Homo sapiens: one gene and its partner. The main gene of each other region encodes a partner of the protein of the gene in region 2 in a complex. Each region holds a gene or a part of one and is shown on either strand. Other genes may lie near its edges. The genes, in order: NCBP1 and NCBP3.

Region 1 (7,000 bases), on a different chromosome or scaffold from region 2:
CTGGTGTGCATTCTAGGTGCCATCCCCACTGAAGCTGGAACCCTTCCCGAGTTCCATCTGGACTAGCTGAGACTCTGCACATAGCTGGCTCTTGCTAGTTTTCTCTCCCAACAGTCTGGATCCTTCAACAGGATTTCTACTTCACTGGCTTAGCCTTGATTCAACTTAAGAGTGTCCCTGCTAAGAGACGCTGCAACCTGATAGGCTGTGTATGTTTCCACTGTCTAGGAATTTTTGCCATGTCCAATCCTACCAGATTGGACCATTAGTATATTAATATCAACCTGGTTTGGACCAGAATTTGAAGCTTATGTATAAGAGACCACACATATATCAATTCTTAGGGAACACAAGTTTCATAAAATAATTTATATTACCTGGTAAAGTCACGAGATAGTTCTGAAGAGAAGATCCAATTTGCTACGGCAGCACAATCAACTATTTGTGTACGAATCATCTTATCCACTAGTACAGCAATCATCTACAATGAGAGAATTATTCAAGTAAATCACACACACACATACACACACATATATATGTGCCACCACACTGCTGCTATAAAAGTAAAATAGGAGGGCTATAAAATTTAGTTTTGGTGGCTATGGAATTGATTGATCAATCTGACCATTAGGTCTTTTTTTTGGGAGACAGAGTTGCTCTGTCACCTAGGCGGGAGTGGAGTGGCACGATCTCAGCTCACTGCAACCTCCACCTCCTAGGTTCAAGCAATTCTCCTGCCTCAACCTCCTGAGCAGCTCAGATTACAGGTGTGCACCACCATGCCTGGCTAATTTTTGTAATTTTAGTATAGACGGGGTTTCACTGTATTGCCTAGGCTGGTCTCGAACTCCTGGCTTCAAGTGATCCATCCATCTCGGCCTCCCAAAGTGCTAGGATTACAGGTAAGAGCCACCACGCCTGGCCTGATCATTAGGTCTTAAGATTTATTCTCCCCTTTGCTTTGCTCTAGCACTACAAGAAACAGGTTGACTAAACAAAAACTCTGAATGGTAACAGTTAAAATTTGAAAAAACTGGCCAGGCGCGGTGGCTCACACCTGTAATCTAGCACACTTTGGGAGGCCGAGGTGGGCAGATCACCTGAGGTCAGGAGTTCCAGACCAGCCTGGCCAACATGGTGAAACCCCATCTCTACTAAAAATACAAAAATCAGCCAGGTGTGGTGGTGGACGCCTGTAATCCCAGCTACTCGGGAGGCTGAGGCAGGGGAATCACTTGAACCCGGGAGGCGGAGGTTGCAGTGAGCCAAGATTGCGCCACTGCACTCCAGCCTGGGTGACAGAGTGAGACTCTGTCTCCAAAAAAAAATTTAAATTTCAGGTACTAATACGTATTCAAAAAAATACATAATTTCAATGAACCCCAGAAGTTAAATGTAAAACAATGTTTTATCATTACACACTCACTGTTTTATGAAATTTATTTAAATGTTTCTTTGTCATACACAATATATATCAAGGTTTGAGAAATCTGGAGCTTGCATTTAGAAACTGGATAGACTAGATAAACCTTTTCCTGAACATTTAAAACATATTGAGATATTATAGTTCAAAACCAAATCATAATAATGCTTACTCTTTCAAGAATGAATGAAACATCATTACTCCCATAGCACTGAAAGAATTAGATCTAAAAACCATTATCTAGGCAGAGTCAAATTTCATGTTTTACAAACAAAACAATGGCAATTAACGGCCTTATTTTTATACCCATACAATCAGAGCTTCAACATGTCTAATTAAATAATTTTTACCTGTGGATGGTTCCTCCAGACCTCAAACATAACTCTTAGCACATGTAACTTTCCTTCATCACTTTCAGCTAGGGTTTTGAAGACTTCATGAAACCTTTTGATAATGATGGGAAAAAAATACCATATATACTTATTCATTAAACATTTTAGTGTTTTCAAAGCCTTTTCAATGTTACTCAATTTATAATGCAATATATAAATGCAAAATAACTAAGTATTAACCATTAAGGATGCAAAAAGTGTGATCACAGATTGATAGTTTTTAAGGAAGCTGTCACAAAATCTCAAGACATTTACAATATACTACCGTTAGCCCAGGGCTACAGTTTAAAAGAATAGGTAAGGACTAAGGAACTGTCTTCAAACATGGTGAAATATTCAAACTGCATCTTCTGTGGGAACCCTGCAAGTAATATAAAGCCTTGGAGACAGAGATGGGGTGAGATGTCCAGTTTCTCTGCTTGGCAGAAGGAAAATCTATGTGCTCTTTCTTCCTTTGGACCCTGTCTGACAAGTTAAAAATACCTGTCTTCAGATGCCAACCTTTGCGTGACTCCCAACAGTGTAGCTGATTCTAATTTCTTCTTACATTGCTTTGGAAAGATATTTAGCGTGGGAACTTCCAACTGCATATGACTGTCCCAAAAACCTAGGTTTTTCACTAGTTTCTTTAAATGTCTATATGAAAAAAAGCACTTACCATGTACATATGCCAACTGTACAAACAGACTGACGGAAGCCTTAGGATATGGATTTCAGCTACCACAAACCCAAACCCACTGTGTCCAATTATACACTATTAAGATCTTCATATTCAACAATCTTAGGTAAAAATTACCATACCACTGGTGTTCACCAAGCAAAATTCCAAACTCTCAAGCAAGGCTCTGTACTCATACATACTTTGCAAGAGCACTGAAGGAGTGGCTGAATGATTTGGCTGCCAAGTGTAGCAGAGTCTGTACAAAGACTTCTATTTTCAATGGGTTAAAACTGAATCCTTCATCTGAAAAATATTTTATAGTAAAACAGAAAAATGTAAGCACAGCAATTCCTTGGTGCCTTACCTCAAATGCTAAATAGATGGTTGCTCACATCTATACACAGATATTTGTGTAATGTTTTTTGGTTCTAATAAACAATAAAAGACCGTCACTGATTTCAAACACTGAAAATATGAAACCACTTGTAATTTTAAGTCTTAGTTTTATGTGACTGTCTTAATTCTATCATCCATTCCTTGAAAAAAAAAAATCACACAGGTTTCCTTATTCATAGCCTCTATTATATTAATACCAAAAAAAAAAAAAAAAAACACTTAAGCTTATGTCTTAAGATGTCTGACAACATCTGAATTTAATGCCATCATTTTGGCTTATTCTTTCTAAACTCATTTTCTCTAATATCATAATACAAATTTCTTAGAGATATCCAAACAAAATCCCAGTAATAAATACCCAAAGGCCACTAATATCTTATTTTGATTCAGTAGTTTTTCTATGTGCATATCCATTTATTGATTCAGGCAACTGTATAAATTATTTTGTCAATTTTCCCACTCTTGCCCAGAAAAACTCCTAGGATTCTGGTTGGAATTACATGGTATATAACTGAGTAAATGTTAAACATTATTATTCTAATAGCTTAACTTGGAGAAAACATCCAACTTTATAACACACCAAGTCTTTCTATTCAGGAACTTCTCTATGGTGAAAGCAGGGGTTAAAAATCCTTGAATGGTAACATATTTCACTTTGTATTTACGATGAAGTTTATATTCTTAAGTAAGCTATATCACAGAAATGTTAGGATCTCTTTTTATATAAGGGGAAAATACCTGGGGTGCTAAGAACAACAGTCTGAACAGGTCAAACAGATATAGATATATTGCTTTAAGAGCATCATGTTGCCAGAGTTATGTTTATGCTTTAAGTTGGCCTATACATAGTTCCACTTAAGAAATACTGAATTCCACTTACCGTCGTCATCATCCTGGTTAGGATTTGGTACATCTTTCAGAATGCTGAAGATTTCATCATTGGTTGCCTTACTTTTAAAGGCAACAGCTAAACAGAGGGCAACAGAATGTCCAGGAAGAGAATCTAAACACAGAATTGGGGGTAAGGGGAATGACAGATCAGGTTTCAAGACTATTCTAATGAACAGTTAAATAACTGAGAAAAATTTTTTTTAAATTCTTCCTTTCAAAATAGGATGCTCTTTATCCCAAGGTCAATATTTAATCACATATAAATACCGTATGTGAAAGCTTTTTCTAATAGGTTAATGGTTTTTCACCTAAAAAGGGACAATTCTCATTTCAACAATTCATTAAGGACACTTAGCTAAGTAAAATTTAGAGCACAAGGTGCTGATCATCCTCAAGATGAATGGTAAGGAGAAAAGTGGACACAGTTAAACTGTCTTTTAATGCCCTCAACTCTCCTGGGCTCAAAATCCCAGAACCAACGTACTTCTCTTTCATTTTGCCAACACCCACTTCCTCTTTCTTTCCTCGGGACCGTGGAAATGAAGTCTGAGTCTCAACAAGGTAATGGCTGCCAACTTCAGAGAGGTTTTGTTTTTGTACTTTTCTTTTTTGCTGAGTCCACAAGCTTGAATCTACGTAAGTCAGATGCTCACGTGATGGGACTCCTTGTATTTACTATTGGTTGGTATCAGTTGAGTCCTTATTATAAAAATTTGTGCTAATATACACCGTAAGGCATCACCAGAGCAACAAGAAATCTGCTTTTAATGTAAGGTAGACAAAGAGGTAACAAAAAAGGCAATCCTGTTATAGAGTATGAGTTACTGGAATGAATAAAGTAAATTACAACAGTCATGTGAGGACAGTCATATTACACCTGCTGTGAGCTTTTTCTCTAAAAAAAAGAAGGCGAAGAAAAACAGAATCCCCTGTCACCAGTCTACATTCTAGCTGGGGAACCAAGATATTCACATTAGACACAGCCAGGAAGCAATACAAAACTGGCTTGCTAACGGTTAAAAAATATTTACAGCTATTGAGCTTGGGCTAGAATCTAGAAGGAGAAAAGGAAGTGGAGCTAGAAAGGGCTTTCCAGACTGGGGTAATGGCAAAGTCAAGAACAGGGAGTATGGAAAAAATAAAAAAGTACATGGACCTGGCAGAAATAGAGGTCCATGTGGGGAGAAGTGAAAAATAACAAAGTAGGAACAATGGTTATGAAGGCCTTGAATGTTAGGCGGAGTTATTCCTATGGGGCAAAAAGAAAGCTTAATCTTCAACAAAAGCCTGAGCTTTCTGATAGCAAAGACTACACCTTATCATTCTCGGAACCAGTACAGGACAAAACTCAAAACCCAGCACTTCTAAGTACTGCATAAACCTTTGATCTGCCAAAAAGCACAGTGGCTAACAGCATGGCCACTCAGTTAGTGCACCTACGCCTGAATTTGGGCTCCACCACTCAAAAGCAATCTCATTCTAGCTTGACCTCTTGGAAGTCATTTCCTCATTGTAGTTTTGATAATCATATCTATTCTTCAGAGTTGACATAATGAAATAGGAAATGTACCAGGACCGACACAGTTCATTTCAAGGAAAACAGGTACAGTCAGAGACAGAGGTGGAGAAACAGGCACACAGTATGAAAAGCAAAGAACAGCAGAAAGTTGTGAGATACAAAGAACCTCTACACAACACAAAATGGAAGGATCATGGAGGGGCTGTGTTAAGTGTAATCTGCAAAGAACAAGTTGGAAAAACTCCACACCTAACTCTACCAGTGATCAACAATGTATAATACTTTACCTTCATTAAGTGTAAATACTATGCAAAGGGCAAAATGGCACATCAAATTACACTCCCTGATTTATGGTGCAATTTCAGAGATTATGTGACCAAAAGGTAAGAAAATCATAATTAAGAATTTACTTTTAAAGGCATACTGCCACAAATATGTGCATCTATGTTCTCAATACCACACCTGAACAAGATAATGAATTCAAGTAACCTCCATCACCATGACAAATACACGTTTTCAGTTTAGTAAGTTCTAACTATAAATTCATCTTGCTATACTTAACACATTCAAAAGAGAAAAAATGATAAGCCAGTAGTAATTAATTTTATCACAACCAAATCCTCAAAATGATGACAGGGCAAATAAAACAGTGGCTAATGATAGACCACCTTTCAAATACAGGAAATATAAACCCCAAGAAAAGAAAAAGTTCAATTTCTCCACTTTAAACAACTAACTTCAGATATACTTGAACTGGTACCTTTTAAAGACAGAGGGATTAGTTTCATTACTTACTGCTACTTTCATCTCCATACTTGTAAATGCAGGTTGGGTTTGCAGGACACAGAGCTGAGAAGGTAGGAGGAACAATATCTAATATACGCTGATGGTAAGACAACCTACAATACAAATAACAGCCTCAGAAAATATCTTTTATCAGTCCCATTCTTCGGTAACACCCGACTTACCTGGAAAGTCATGATCTCCAACAACTTGAACTCAGCTGACAACCAAGAAGTGAAAGGGAAAAAAAAATCCTTTGAGTTTTTGTCTAAGCCAGCACACCAAATCTCAGGCATACTGCAAAACTCACTGGCTTGCACTGAGGTGCGGGTGAGTGAGCTCATGAGCCTGGTGGCCAAGTATGTGGGGTGATGATGGGGCATGGTGGAGATGACTGCACGCTTTGGAAACTGGCTATATTCTATCAAATAAATAAATATTGAGGATAATGGAAGCCAAGTTTGTTACTGCCTGAGAAGGTGTTTACAAATCATGGTAGAGAAGAAGTGTAGAAATAAGGTATTGAGTTGGAATTGGAGGCATATATACACACAGGTGGACATAAAAACAGTTATGGATGGATGGATGTGTGTCCACCAAGAGGCTTAGAACCAATGACACCCCAATGGCAATGAGCATATCAAGTGCCCAGATCTTGGCTCCTAAATACCATATTCCATTACTACTTTACTAGAAACTAGGGCTCCATGAATAAATAGATGATTCCAGTGATAGGGCAAGAAAACGCAAGATGATCCTAAATATGTTGTTCTAGAAAATAAGGGAATGCTCAATGAATGGCTGGGGACGTTAAAAAAAAAAAAAAAAATATATATATATATATATATAGAGAGAGAGAGAGAGAGAGAGCTTACCGGGGCTCCTCATGTACATACCAGGGACAATTTGGGCATCAAAATAAATAATCCTCATAG
Region 2 (12,096 bases):
ACTATAATATTCTGCGCTTATGAAATAATTGCTTGCCACCTGAGTTGGAATTTCTGACTTTAAAAGTGAATATTAACTATTTGTATATTTCTGTGACTTCTGGCTAAAGTTATTTTCTGTTGAAACTGGTTTGCCTCATATATTTTCAGCCAGTTACCATCTGAATTATGAAAACTTTCAAATGAAACTTTATTTATTACAGCAACGTCCTCCTGAACATTGCCAGTGTACCATTCGGTTCTAATTCCCTTCTCATAAGATTGTTTACACATGGTGACTTTTGGTGGGCATTTAAAAATGTGTGTGTATGTGTATATATGTATGTGTATGTATGTGTATATATGTATATGTATGTATGTATCGCGTGTATGTGTGTATGTATGCATGTGTATGTATGTATATGTATGTATGTGTATGTGTATATATGTATGTGTGTGTATGTATATGTGTGTGTATGTGTATGTGTGTGTGTATGTGTGTGTGTATGTATGTATGTATGTATATGTATTATACACATATACACATATTGGTTTTTTTAATCATTTGAGAGTTAGTTGAAGATAAAAACCCATCACCCCTAAATGTATTCCAAAGAATAAGAACATTGTTTTATACATAGCACACTTAACAAAATCAAGAAATTTAACATTAATACAGTACTGTTACCTAATCCGTAGTCGATTTTCAAATTTTGTCAGTTGTTCCAATAATGTCCTTTATATATTCCCCGCCCAGCCCCAGGTCTAGGATCCATCCAGGACTGAGTGTGTAAGTATGTAATGTTTCCTTAGTCCCCCTTAAGCTGAAACTACTTCTATCCTCCCATGTTTTCCAAGAATATAGGTTTACTATTTTATACAATGTCCCTCAGTTTGGGTTTGTCTGATGATTCCTCCTGATTGAATTTGGGTTGTGCATTTGAGACAGGCGTGCCACAGAAGCGATGTCATGTCATTTCCAGAGCATCATGTCAGGAGGCCCTGGATACTTACTCGTCCCAGTCCTAGGGACGTTCACTTTATTCACTTGGTTAAGGTAATCATCACTAGGTTTTTCCACTGTAAAGTTGCTATTCTTCCATTTGTAATTTAAAAATTGGTGGGCTGGCTGGTTACAGTGGCTCGTGCCTGTAATTGCAACACTTTGGGATGCTGAGGCAGAAGGATCACTTGAGCCCAGGAGTTCGAGACCAGGCTAGGCAACATAGCAAGACCTCATCCCTATTTTAAAAAATAAAAAAATGATTAAAATAAAAAATTGGTGGGCAGATACTTTGAGATCACGTAAATAGCCTCTTGCTCATCAGAGCTTCATGCCTTTCTGACTATGTCATTTCTTTACCAGTAGACAGGTGCTCTAAGGAAGAGCCTTCTGTTTTTACCTGTTTGTTTATTTACATCAGTTTAGAATCATGGATTCTTTATTCAGTGGGTTATCATCCATGGATATCAGTATTTAATTTTATTTATTTTTTTGTTTGTTTTGAGACGGAGTGTTGCTCTGTCACCAGGCTGGAGTGCAGTGGCGCGATCTTGGCTCACTGCAACCGCTGCCTCCCTGCAACCTCTGCCTCCCTGCAACCTCTGCCTCCTGGGTTCAAGCAATTCTCCTGTCTCAGCTTCCCTAGTAGCTGGGACTACAGGTGCATGCCACCATGCCCAGCTAATTTTTGTATTTTTAGTAGAGATGGGGTTCACCATGTTGGCCAGGATGGTCTCGATCTCTTGACCTTGTGATCCGCCCGCCTCAGCCTCCCAAAGTACTGGGATTACAGGCGTGAGCCATCGCGCCCAGCCTAATATCAGTATTTTAATTTACAAATTGTCTTGGATTTGGCCAGTAGAGCCCCTTCAAGCTGTTTTGACATACTCCATGATTCTTTAAGCACTTTCTTTCTTTATGGCACAACAAAACATCTTGCTTTTCCAGACTCATTTTGCATCTTACCTGCTCCACATCTGGAATCAGCCATTTCTCCAAGGAGCTGGTGGGCATGGTTTGAGGGGTTCGGGGGTTGGGGGCTATACATACTGGTTTGTGTTGTCACGTTTACCTACAGCCCTGGATATATTTACAGTGGTGTTTGTTCTTTACAGTCAGAGTGTCCAAGAACTGTGGAAGGTCTTTGTATTACTACTTTTGACAAAAATTTATGATGACTGACCACCTTTCTTTCCTGTTAACTGACATTTCAACTTGACAAATGTGATCTTTACCACATTTACTCATTTGAGTGGCTGAGTACATTCTACATGTATAGTATTATGCTGTTTTCTTTAAGCCATTTTGAGGAGCACAATAAACTGGAAAAATGATTTACCAAATATATGGAATTATATGTAGTCTGTTTCCTTAATCCTGATGCTGTGTTGTTGGCATGTGATCCTTCAGAAGTGAATATCATCTTTCATGGGGTGGCAAAAATGCCACTATTTTGAGAAAGTCTTTTTGATTCCTGGGTACCTGTAATGACCTAAAGCTCTTTTATGCCTTTTGGAACCTTGTATCTTGTATTGTTTATTTTTGTTTTCTCCATTAAGTCATCTGGCTCCAAACAGCAGTTTTAACCTCATTCGTCTCTGTATTTTGCTTTATCCCCTCTACACTGCATTGCTGTAGTGGGCACTCAGAGTGTGAATGTTGGTAGTGGATTTTTACTTTTTGTTGGCAAATTGCGCTGATCTGATTCCAGCTATGGAAAACATTAAAAAAAAAATTCAACATTGTCTTTACACTCACAGGAAATCCTAGGTAACTATTGTCATTAATTTTTAGATGACAAAAAGGAACTTGGAGCAGCCAGAAGAAGTCAGTATTACATGAAATATGGGAATCCAAATTATGGAGGCATGAAAGGAATTCTTAGCAATTCATGGTGAGTCCAAAACCTTCAAATGCAATAGTATTTGAGTTTTTCTTAATCCTTCAGTTGGTATTCCGTGGTGAAATGTCTAAACCCTGTGTAAACTGGAAGGAAAACAAGAGGGAAGAATTCAAGATTCTTAGATGTGGTAAATGATGGGGAATGCTGAATTGTAGTTACATTTAAAATATCTGTGTTAGTACCTAACATTGTGTCAACGTGTAGTTGAAATGAATTAGCGAGCCCAGACATGGTGGCTCACGCCTGTAATCCCAGCACTTTGGGAGGCCGAGGCCAGCAGATCACCTGAGGTCAGGAGTTCGAGACCAGCCTGGCCAACATGGTGAAACCCCGTCTCTACTAAAAATACAAAAATTAGCCATGCATGGTGGTGGGCGCCTGTAATCCCACCTACTCGGGAGGCTGAGGCAGGAGAATTGCTTGAACCCAAGAGGCAAAGGTTGCAGTGAGCTGAGATGGTGCCATTGCACTTCAGCCTGGGAGAGAGATTGAGACTCCATCACAAAAAAAAAAGAAAAGAGAAAGAAATAGTGGATTTCAAGGTCCTTCCTATCAGTTTTTGATTGTGTGCTTATTTTGGCATTCTTGCAGGAAGCGAAGATATCATTCCCGTCGTATTCAGCGGGACGTGATCAAGAAGAGAGCCCTGATTGGGGATGACGTTGGCTTGACGTCGTATAAACATCGACATTCTGGTAGTTGCCTGCTCAGCTCTTGGGTAGACACATGTTTGGCTCCTGAAATCATATTTTTATTCTTAATGCAATCTTTTAAGGTTCCAAACTTTATCATCCTCTCTTCCTTGCCCTCACCCTCTGCCAACATATAGGAAAGTAAGTCAAGTCACAATTAATTTTAAGTTGCCCAAAGAGGTCAAATGATTTTATAAAAGCTGTTCTATCAAAAAAGGCAAAATATGACATAGGAAAAATTAAAACAAAACTTTCCTTAGGATCCTAATTTTTCTACTATTAATATCAACAGCTGCATGAAAACAATTTTTTTTTTTTTTTTAAGACGGAGTCTCGCTCTGTCTCTCAGGCTGGAGTGCAATTGCTTGATCTCGGCTCACTGCAACTCTGCCTCCTGGATTCAAGCAATTCTCCTGCCTTAGCCTCCCGAGTAGCTGGGACTACAGGCATGCGCCACCATGCCCAGCTAACTTTTGTATTTTTAGTAGAGATGGGGTTTCACCATGTTGGCCAGGCTGGTCTCGAACTCCTGACCTTGTGTTCCACCCACTTTGGCCTCCCAGAGTGCTGGGATTACAGGTGTGAGCTACCGCGCCTAGCCAAAAACAATTTTTGAAATTATTTTATCAGATGAACTGATTGTATTGTTCTTTTTCTGTATTAAAAATAGGCTGCTGTGTTGAGTGCTTTGTGCTTGTTGGTTTGTGCATGTGAATGCCTCAGAAGAGTGGGATATCATGACTTGGGTTTCTTTCTCCTTTTTTTGGTGCTTATTGTAAAAGAACCATTTTATTTATGTTTTATAAAGAATTGTTCTTGTTTTGAGCCTAATCTATGGAATCTTCTACATGCCTAATAGAACTAGTCAAGTCAGCATACAAAATAACATATACACACATTTATCATTGTAATGGGGACAGAAAGGGATGAAGTCTAGATGTTTTATTTAATGTGTATATACAAAATTGTATATTTGAGATCTACATGTTAATAATACACATAGGATGGGAACAGTGGCTCACACCTATAATCCCAGCACTTTGGGAGGCCAAGGCAGGAGGATCACTTGAAACCAGGAGTTTGAGACCAGCCTGGGCAACATAGTGAGACCTTGTCGTTACAAAAAATTAAAAAATTAGCCAGACCAGGCATGATGGCACATACCTGTGGTCCCAGCTACTTGGGAGGCTGAGATTGCCTGAGCCTGGAAGGTCAAGGCTGCAGTGAGCCAAGATTGTGCCACTGTATTCCAACCTGGGCGACAGAGCAAGACTTTGTCTCAAAATAATAATAATAATACACATACTTTACTGTTACACAGTTACACTTTTCCAATTTGAGTTACTTTAAAATATTTTCATCATATACTTTTTATATCCATATTAAGGAAATTAAAAAGCAAATTGCCCCTATTTCTAGTACCCTGTATGATGACTGAGTTCATCTTACATTTTTCCCATTTGTTTTCATAATAAATAGTATAACTCTTGGGAACATGTACTTTATATTCTACTTCTTTCGTTTATTGTATTTTTCCATTTTCATTATTCATGGTGCTTATGTTCTATAAAGTCACTGTGAACACTGAAGTAGCAAATACTGAATCGTACATAGCCTCTGGCCACATCATTTTTGTCAGTTGATCAATATGTAACCTTGTTTTACATATGTTTCTCTCTTTTTTTTTTTTTTGAGACAGAGTCTTGCTCTGTTGCCCAGGCTGGAGTGCAGTGGCGCGATCTCGGCTCACTGCAACCTCCGCCTCCCGGGTTCACGCCATTCTCCTACCTCAGCCTCCCGAGTAGCTGGGACTACAAGCGCACACCACCATGCCCGGCTAATTTTTGTTGTATTTTTTAGTAGAGACAGGGTATTAGCATGTTAGCCAGGATGGTCTCGATTTCCTGACCTCGTGATCTGCCCACCTCGGCCTCCCAAAGTGCTGGGATTACAGGCGTGAGCCACCGCGCTGGGCCCATATGTTTCTCTTTAAGACACCTTATTTAAGACACATTGTTGATTCGTTAACATTGAGTTCACAGCCAGTAGCCCTATAACTCATGCCTGAATGCCTTACCTGATATGGTATTTTTCCACAAGGCACATCACAGCCCCCTTGCATCTAGGAACACTAGGCAGCACTTCGGCACGACACTCAGGGCCATTTTAAGCAGTGAAATCACTAGCAGCAGGCACAGAAGTGTGAAAAATGTGCCACTCGGTGGACTGAAACAGACGCTTGTTTACAGCATGAGATGAAACAGGAAGGTGGAGTGTTGCTTTGTTTGACCTCCACTGGGAGTGTGTGTGCCTGGTGACTCAGATTTTTTTGCCACTCTGTGCGTGCCAGCAAATGACCATGGAAGCATTGCACGTATTCATTTTGGAGTTACAAATAAATTTGGTAAATTTGCAAATACAAAATCTGTGAATAATAAAGGTCAGTTGTATTTTAAATGACTTTATGGTATTTGGTTAGGCTGCTGCATCATACTTTACCTAGCCATCCTCCTGTTGCAGTATCAGAGTAATGTCCATTTGGCACTATTATAGATAGTGCTCCAATAAAATGTCAGGGATGGGAACCCCACCTTTTAAAAAGGTCACCGATGTAGAGTAGAAAATCATACTTGTTAATTTTAGTGCTTTTCCTAATGTTTTCTGGTTAAATTTCTTCAGGGCTAGTGAATGTTCCCGAGGAACCCATTGAAGAGGAGGAAGAGGAGGAGGAGGAGGAAGAGGAAGAGGAAGAAGAAGACCAGGACATGGATGCAGATGACAGAGTGGTGGTAGAGTACCACGAGGAGCTCCCGGCTCTCAAGCAGCCCCGGGAGCGGAGCGCGTCTAGACGATCCAGTGCCAGCAGCTCAGACTCAGATGAAATGGACTATGATCTAGAACTGAAAATGATTTCCACGCCTTCACCAAAGAAAAGCATGAAAATGACTATGTATGCTGACGAAGTGGAATCTCAGTTGAAAAATATTAGGTAAAAATTTGTTTTATCAAAGCTAGCTTTTAATTTGATTTTAAATACTAGTATAACTTCTTAATTCCTCCTAATTTTATAATATCTTTTATCTATTCTGATTTCAGTCCCTTGTAGGAGTTTAATAAACGCATCCAGTATTTCCTCTATACAAGCAGTGATTCTTGTTATAAAAACAAAAGACAACATAGAAAGTGAAAATCATCTGTATTCCCATTCTTTCTCAACAATAACTACTGTTAGCAATTTGGCGAATAACCTTTCAGCTATTTGTGTGTGTGTGTGTGTGTGTGTGTATGGCACAGGGAAAAGCTGTAGATATATTTGTATAAAAGTATACTTTTTATAAAGATGAGGTTATGCTATTTATAGTTTTGCATTGTGCATTTTTCACTTAATATATTGTAGACATTATTTTTTTCAACTGTATATAGTCTGTTGTTTGAAAGTATCATGATTTATTTAACGAATTCCTTTTTGATGGACTTTAGGTTTCTATTTTCTTACAATTGCACTAACTCAATAAATTCCTCAAAGTCCAGTTATTACACAAAACAATATGTGTTTAAAAAGATGGTAAGTATTGCTTTATTTTTTTCCAGAAGGGTTTTTTGTGTGTTTTTATTTTTTTTTTGAGACGGAGTCTCGCTCTGTCACCCAGGCTGGAGTGCAGTGGCGCGATCTCGGCTCACTGCAAACTCCGCCTCCCAGGTTCACGCCATTCTCCTGCCTCAGCCTCCCGAGTAGCTGGGACTACAGGCGCCTGCCACTACTCCTGGCTAATTTTTTGTAATTTTAGTAGAGACGGGTTTCAGCATGTTGGCCAGGATGGTCTCAATCTCCTGACCTCGTGATCCACCTGCCTCAGCCTCCCAAAGTGCTGGGATTACAGGCATGAGCCACCATGCCCGGGCTCAGAAGGGTTTTAATCCCAGAAGGGTTTTAATCACTCACATTACCACCTGTTACCTACAAGCTCACCAGCCTTAGCTATTACCATTCTTTCTAATGCTAGCTAGTTTCATGAACAAAAAAAAAATAGTTATTTTAATGTGCATGTCTTTGATTACTACTAGGGGTGAGCAGATTCTGTGCAGGCAGAATCCACAGTTCTAAGGGTTAGAGTCTAGGGATGCTCTGTGTAACGTAGTATGTTTGTGGGGAGGGGAAAAGACCATTCAAGCTGATTTGTTTGTATGGCCTTGTTCACCACGTTCTTTTTTTTTTTGAGACGGAGTCTCGCTCTGTCGCCCAGCCTGGAGTGCAGTGGAGCGATAACACGATCTCGGCTCACTGCAAGCTCCGCCTTCTGGGTTCACAGCATTTTCCTGCCTCAGCCTCCCGGGGAGCTGGGAGTACAGGCCACCACGCCCAGCTAATTTTTTGTATTTTTAGTAGAGACTGGGTTTCACCATGTTAGCCAGGATGGTCTCGATCTCCTGACCTCGTGATCCGCCCGCCTCAGCTTCCCAAAGTGCTGGGATTACAGGCATGAGCCTGTTCACATTCTTATTTTTGGTTTTCAGAGAGCTTTCTGGTAGAGAATGCTGCCGGAACGGTGCTGGCACCTAGCATGATAGCATATCTCTTTGAAAGAGAAGTCTGCCCTTTAAAGAGAGAGACTGTAGACTATACTGTGTGTTGACTACAGCCACATCACAGCATGTGTAAGTGGAAGCCCCAATCTCTTTGTAGGCCTCTACTTAACGTTTGTCCCAGAAAAGGGGGACTTGTAGTTGTATGCTGTGTAATAGCACATACACATGTGGAAACCACCTTCGAAAACCTGCTCACCAGAACCAGTCTCTTTAGAGCAGGCAGATCATGGTTTCCATAAGCAAATAATTATAAGTTTATGGATTTGTAAGTGAATGTTGGCCATGTAAGACAGGATTTCTTAAATTGTTTCCTCCAAAGTATGAGATTGTTGTTTGGGTCTTGTCTCACAGTTGAAGTTGGTTAACTGTGCCCCATCCTACCCCCTTTTTAAAGGAACTCCATGAGGGCAGATAGTGTATCTTCAAGCAATATCAAAAACCGAATTGGTAACAAATTACCACCTGAGAAATTTGCAGATGTCCGACATCTATTAGATGAGAAACGTCAGCACTCCCGTCCACGGCCACCAGTCAGCAGTACTAAATCAGGTACTGTTCCTCACTTGGATTCCTGGCTGGATTCTGAGCTCCGGAAAGCAGACTGGGGCAGAGAGAGGTTCCTGAGTAAAACATGCGATGTGTGAACTGATTTAGCTGTCCTGGTTCATCATGTCTAAATTGTGGGCTAGGTGTTGGAAATTGAGGAAATGAAAAATAATCAGACTTCTGAAAAACTAGCTTTAAATGTTTTTATTCCAAATAATTACAGTTGTTCCTTGGTATGTCTGGGGGCTTGCTTCCAGGACCCCCTCCCCGCCCCCTACAGATACCAAAATCCATTGATGCTTAAGTCCCTTATATAAAGTGACATATTATCTGCATATAACCTACACACATCCTCTCATATACTTTAAGTCATCTCTAGATTATTTACAATACCTAATACGGTATAAATTCTTATCCTGTGTTGTGTAAAATTTGTATTATTTTTTGCTGTACTCTTATGTCTTACTTTTTTTCCACATGTATTCGATCAGCAGTTGGTTGAATCTATAGATGTGGAATCCATGGATGAGGAGGGCCAACCATATTTTCCTCTGTATGACACTGGTATACTTTATATACAAGAATAATAGAAATTAAGTTCGGTGGTTGTCTGAACAGTTAAGAGTTTGAACTAGATAATTTCTATGTTCAAACACTGATTCAGCAGGTCTTTAGCCGTACCTGCTATGTGCCAGACCCTGGTCTAGGTGCTAGGAATGTGAGAAGCCTTTGGAGGGGACGCAGAGCCGTCATAGATCTACTCGGGAAGTTGTGAAAGACTTCTTAGAGAAAGTAGCATTAGAGCCAGGCCTTGGAGAGGGTAGGATCTCTGTTGGCAAACCTGATTTTTTTACATGAGAAGTAACCTGATCTTACATCTATTTTAGAAAGACAACTTGAGGGTGGAGTGGGGTGGGGTAGAGAGTTAAAAAAGTAACAAGAGCCTGAACTAGGTCGGTGGAGACAGAATGGATAAAGAACAGGATAGTCTTGTGAAGGAAGACTCAGTGCTAGGAAGTGTTGGAGGAAAGGAGCTCAGGTCTCAGTGACCAGAGACCAGGGTGCTGCTCTCTGAGAGAAGCTAAAGTGAGAGGAGACCTCGGCACAGGGCCTCACCAACGAATGTGTTTCTGTTGTTGCTGTGGTGGTTAGGGGGAACTCAAGAGGACAGGCCGATTTCTGGGGGGATTGAGGGAAAAACACATTTGATCCTTTGCCTTTTCCAGTCTCTTTATATTTACTGGTTAAATGTAATAAGTTTATTGGGAACTACTTGTATGTTCAAAGATTGTGCCTTCCACTTTCCAGGAGCTCACAGGATTTTTTGTTCGCTGAAACTTTTGTAAATTACTTAGTCTTCTTGATTCTGCTTAAAGAAAAAAAAAAAAAGGTTGTTTCTTCAGAAATATAGTTCTGGAGTAATCAGTTGAGGATTTTTCCTCTGACAGCCCCTATGTCCGAATTTTCCTAAGGAAATCCAGACTGATTACAAAGGAAGAATACTTAGCAGCCTGATTGTCAGGCCCTGTGTCCTCGGGGCAGGGGTTAGCGCCAGATCCGTTAGAGGTGTCAGGCGGCTGGTGCCGAGCATAAAGCACACACACGGTCACTGGTGCACTTTTTCTCTTTTTTCAGATATACGCCAGCGGTTAGGAAAAAGACCACATTCTCCGGAAAAGGCTTTTAGTAGTAACCCCGTCGTTCGGAGAGAGCCCTCTTCTGATGTGCATAGTAGGCTAGGTGTTCCCAGGCAGGATAGTAAAGGCCTCTACGCCGATACTCGGGAGAAGAAATCAGGTTGGTAACACTTAAAACGGATGGGAATGGGGATTCAGTGAGAGCAGAGGACAGTGGGTGTATTGGAGAAATACTTTCTTAGCAGAAGGCAAGAAACAGCCCACGCCAAATATAAGTGATTATTCCTTTTCCATTATAGTTATCGTCAGCATCAGCATCAGCATCATCCCAACAGTTAGGAACGCTTAGAAAATAGAAAAAAATAGCACACTCCTGGCTCTTTCTGTTTGGCACAAATCTTTTTAGTTTCATGTGAGCTATTCTGGTCTTTGCCCACATACAAATCCTAGTTTTTTCATACAGCATTTTATCGTAGTTGTTTGCCACATTTTATAATCTTTATAAATAAAACTTTTAGGCCAGGCATAGCGGCTCAACACCTGTAATCCCAGCAATTTGGGAGGCCGAGACGGGGGGATCACTTGAGGTCAGGAGTTCGAGACCAGCCTAACCAACATGGTGAAACCCTGTCTCTACTAAAAACACAAAAATGAGCCGGGCGTGGTGGTGGGCGCCTGCACCACTGCACTTCAGCCTGGGCAACAGCAAGACCTTGTCTCAAAAACAAAAACAAAAACAACTTTGAATTGCCTTATAATGTGGCCGTCTACAAAATTCTAAACACGTATTTCTCTATTGTTAAATTTTCATAAAATATATTTCAAAAATTAATGGAAGGGATCTGGGAGTGGCCTACTTCTGGCAGAATGGATTGGCACACAGGGTGGTGTCTCAGCAGGGAAGGGCAGGAGTAGGAGGAAACGGCCTCTCAGGTGATTCTGATGTGTCTGGTGACAGGGAGGGACCTGACCTGTCCCCCCACGGTGAGAATCCCGTGCTGGGTCCAGACCCTTCCGTTTGCGGGCAGGGGCTGCGGCCCGGGAAATGAGATTTTGCCTGCCCAAGGCTGCACTGTGGTGGCAGGCTCCACAGACTGCTGGCGTTTCCTGCACAGCAGGTGTTGGCAGTGCTGCTGCCCCCTCAGTGCTACCCTGGTTCTTAGCGCTGACTGCGAAAGTGAAATGCCATCTCATCCAAACAGGTAATTTATGGACTCGCCTAGGATCTGCACCCAAGACCAAAGAAAAGAATACGAAGAAAGTGGATCACAGGGCGCCTGGCGCTGAGGAAGACGACTCTGAGCTGCAAAGGGCATGGGGGGCTCTGATTAAGGAGAAAGAGCAGTCTCGCCAAAAGAAGAGCCGGTTAGATAACTTACCATCTCTCCAGATTGAAGTTAGTCGGGAAAGCAGCTCTGGTTCAGAGGCAGAGTCCTGATGCCCCTGGGGCCTATGGCAGCTGCCCTAAAGCCTGACATTCTTGCACAGGGTGGGGCGCGCAGTAGGAACCTCCCCCGCAGGAGCTGGCGCCCTCTCGCTCCTGCTCACACAGTCACCCTCCGCTCTTGCTACTTCGGCAAGACATCTTAAGAATGTGACACATTTTCAAGGGCATCTCTATCTTTCGCTGCAGAGTTGTAGTTCTGGGCCCTCGATTCCTTTCCCACCACCCCACAGGCTTTACCCTTTGAGAAAAAGGCAGCCCTCCAGATTTTGTAGACATTTTTCTTAATATTTTTAACATTGTGTC

Evidence for each region.
Region 1: the proteins of NCBP3 (region 2) and NCBP1 are in contact, whole or in part, in a cryo-EM structure (PDB 8BY6), measured with the Homo sapiens proteins. Residues at the interface, in NP_001107590.1 of Homo sapiens: Glu572, Asp574, Glu576, Leu577, Gln578, Ala580, Trp581, Gly582, Leu584, Ile585, Lys588, Glu589, Arg592; in NP_002477.1 of Homo sapiens: Lys330, Ile377, Glu378, Cys380, Lys381, Pro384, Pro388, Gln389, Ala392, His420, Asn423, Phe424, Gln425, Arg427, Trp428, Ser429, Glu431, Asp432.

Annotation. Positions count from the first base shown.
Region 1 is NC_000009.12:97,657,821-97,664,820, reverse strand, and holds part of NCBP1 (nuclear cap-binding protein subunit 1), read right to left. Parts: intron 6,182-7,000; coding exon 6,078-6,181; intron 3,876-6,077; coding exon 3,753-3,875; intron 2,780-3,752; coding exon 2,677-2,779; intron 1,868-2,676; coding exon 1,774-1,867; intron 482-1,773; coding exon 378-481; intron 1-377. UniProt on the Homo sapiens protein: Component of the cap-binding complex (CBC), which binds cotranscriptionally to the 5'-cap of pre-mRNAs and is involved in various processes such as pre-mRNA splicing, translation regulation, nonsense-mediated mRNA decay, RNA-mediated gene silencing (RNAi) by microRNAs (miRNAs) and mRNA export.
Region 2 is NC_000017.11:3,812,732-3,824,827, reverse strand, and holds part of NCBP3 (nuclear cap-binding protein subunit 3), read left to right. Parts: intron 1-2,775; coding exon 2,776-2,875; intron 2,876-3,475; coding exon 3,476-3,579; intron 3,580-6,255; coding exon 6,256-6,565; intron 6,566-8,557; coding exon 8,558-8,712; intron 8,713-10,344; coding exon 10,345-10,506; intron 10,507-11,548; coding exon 11,549-11,784; 3' UTR 11,785-12,096. UniProt on the Homo sapiens protein: Associates with NCBP1/CBP80 to form an alternative cap-binding complex (CBC) which plays a key role in mRNA export. NCBP3 serves as adapter protein linking the capped RNAs (m7GpppG-capped RNA) to NCBP1/CBP80.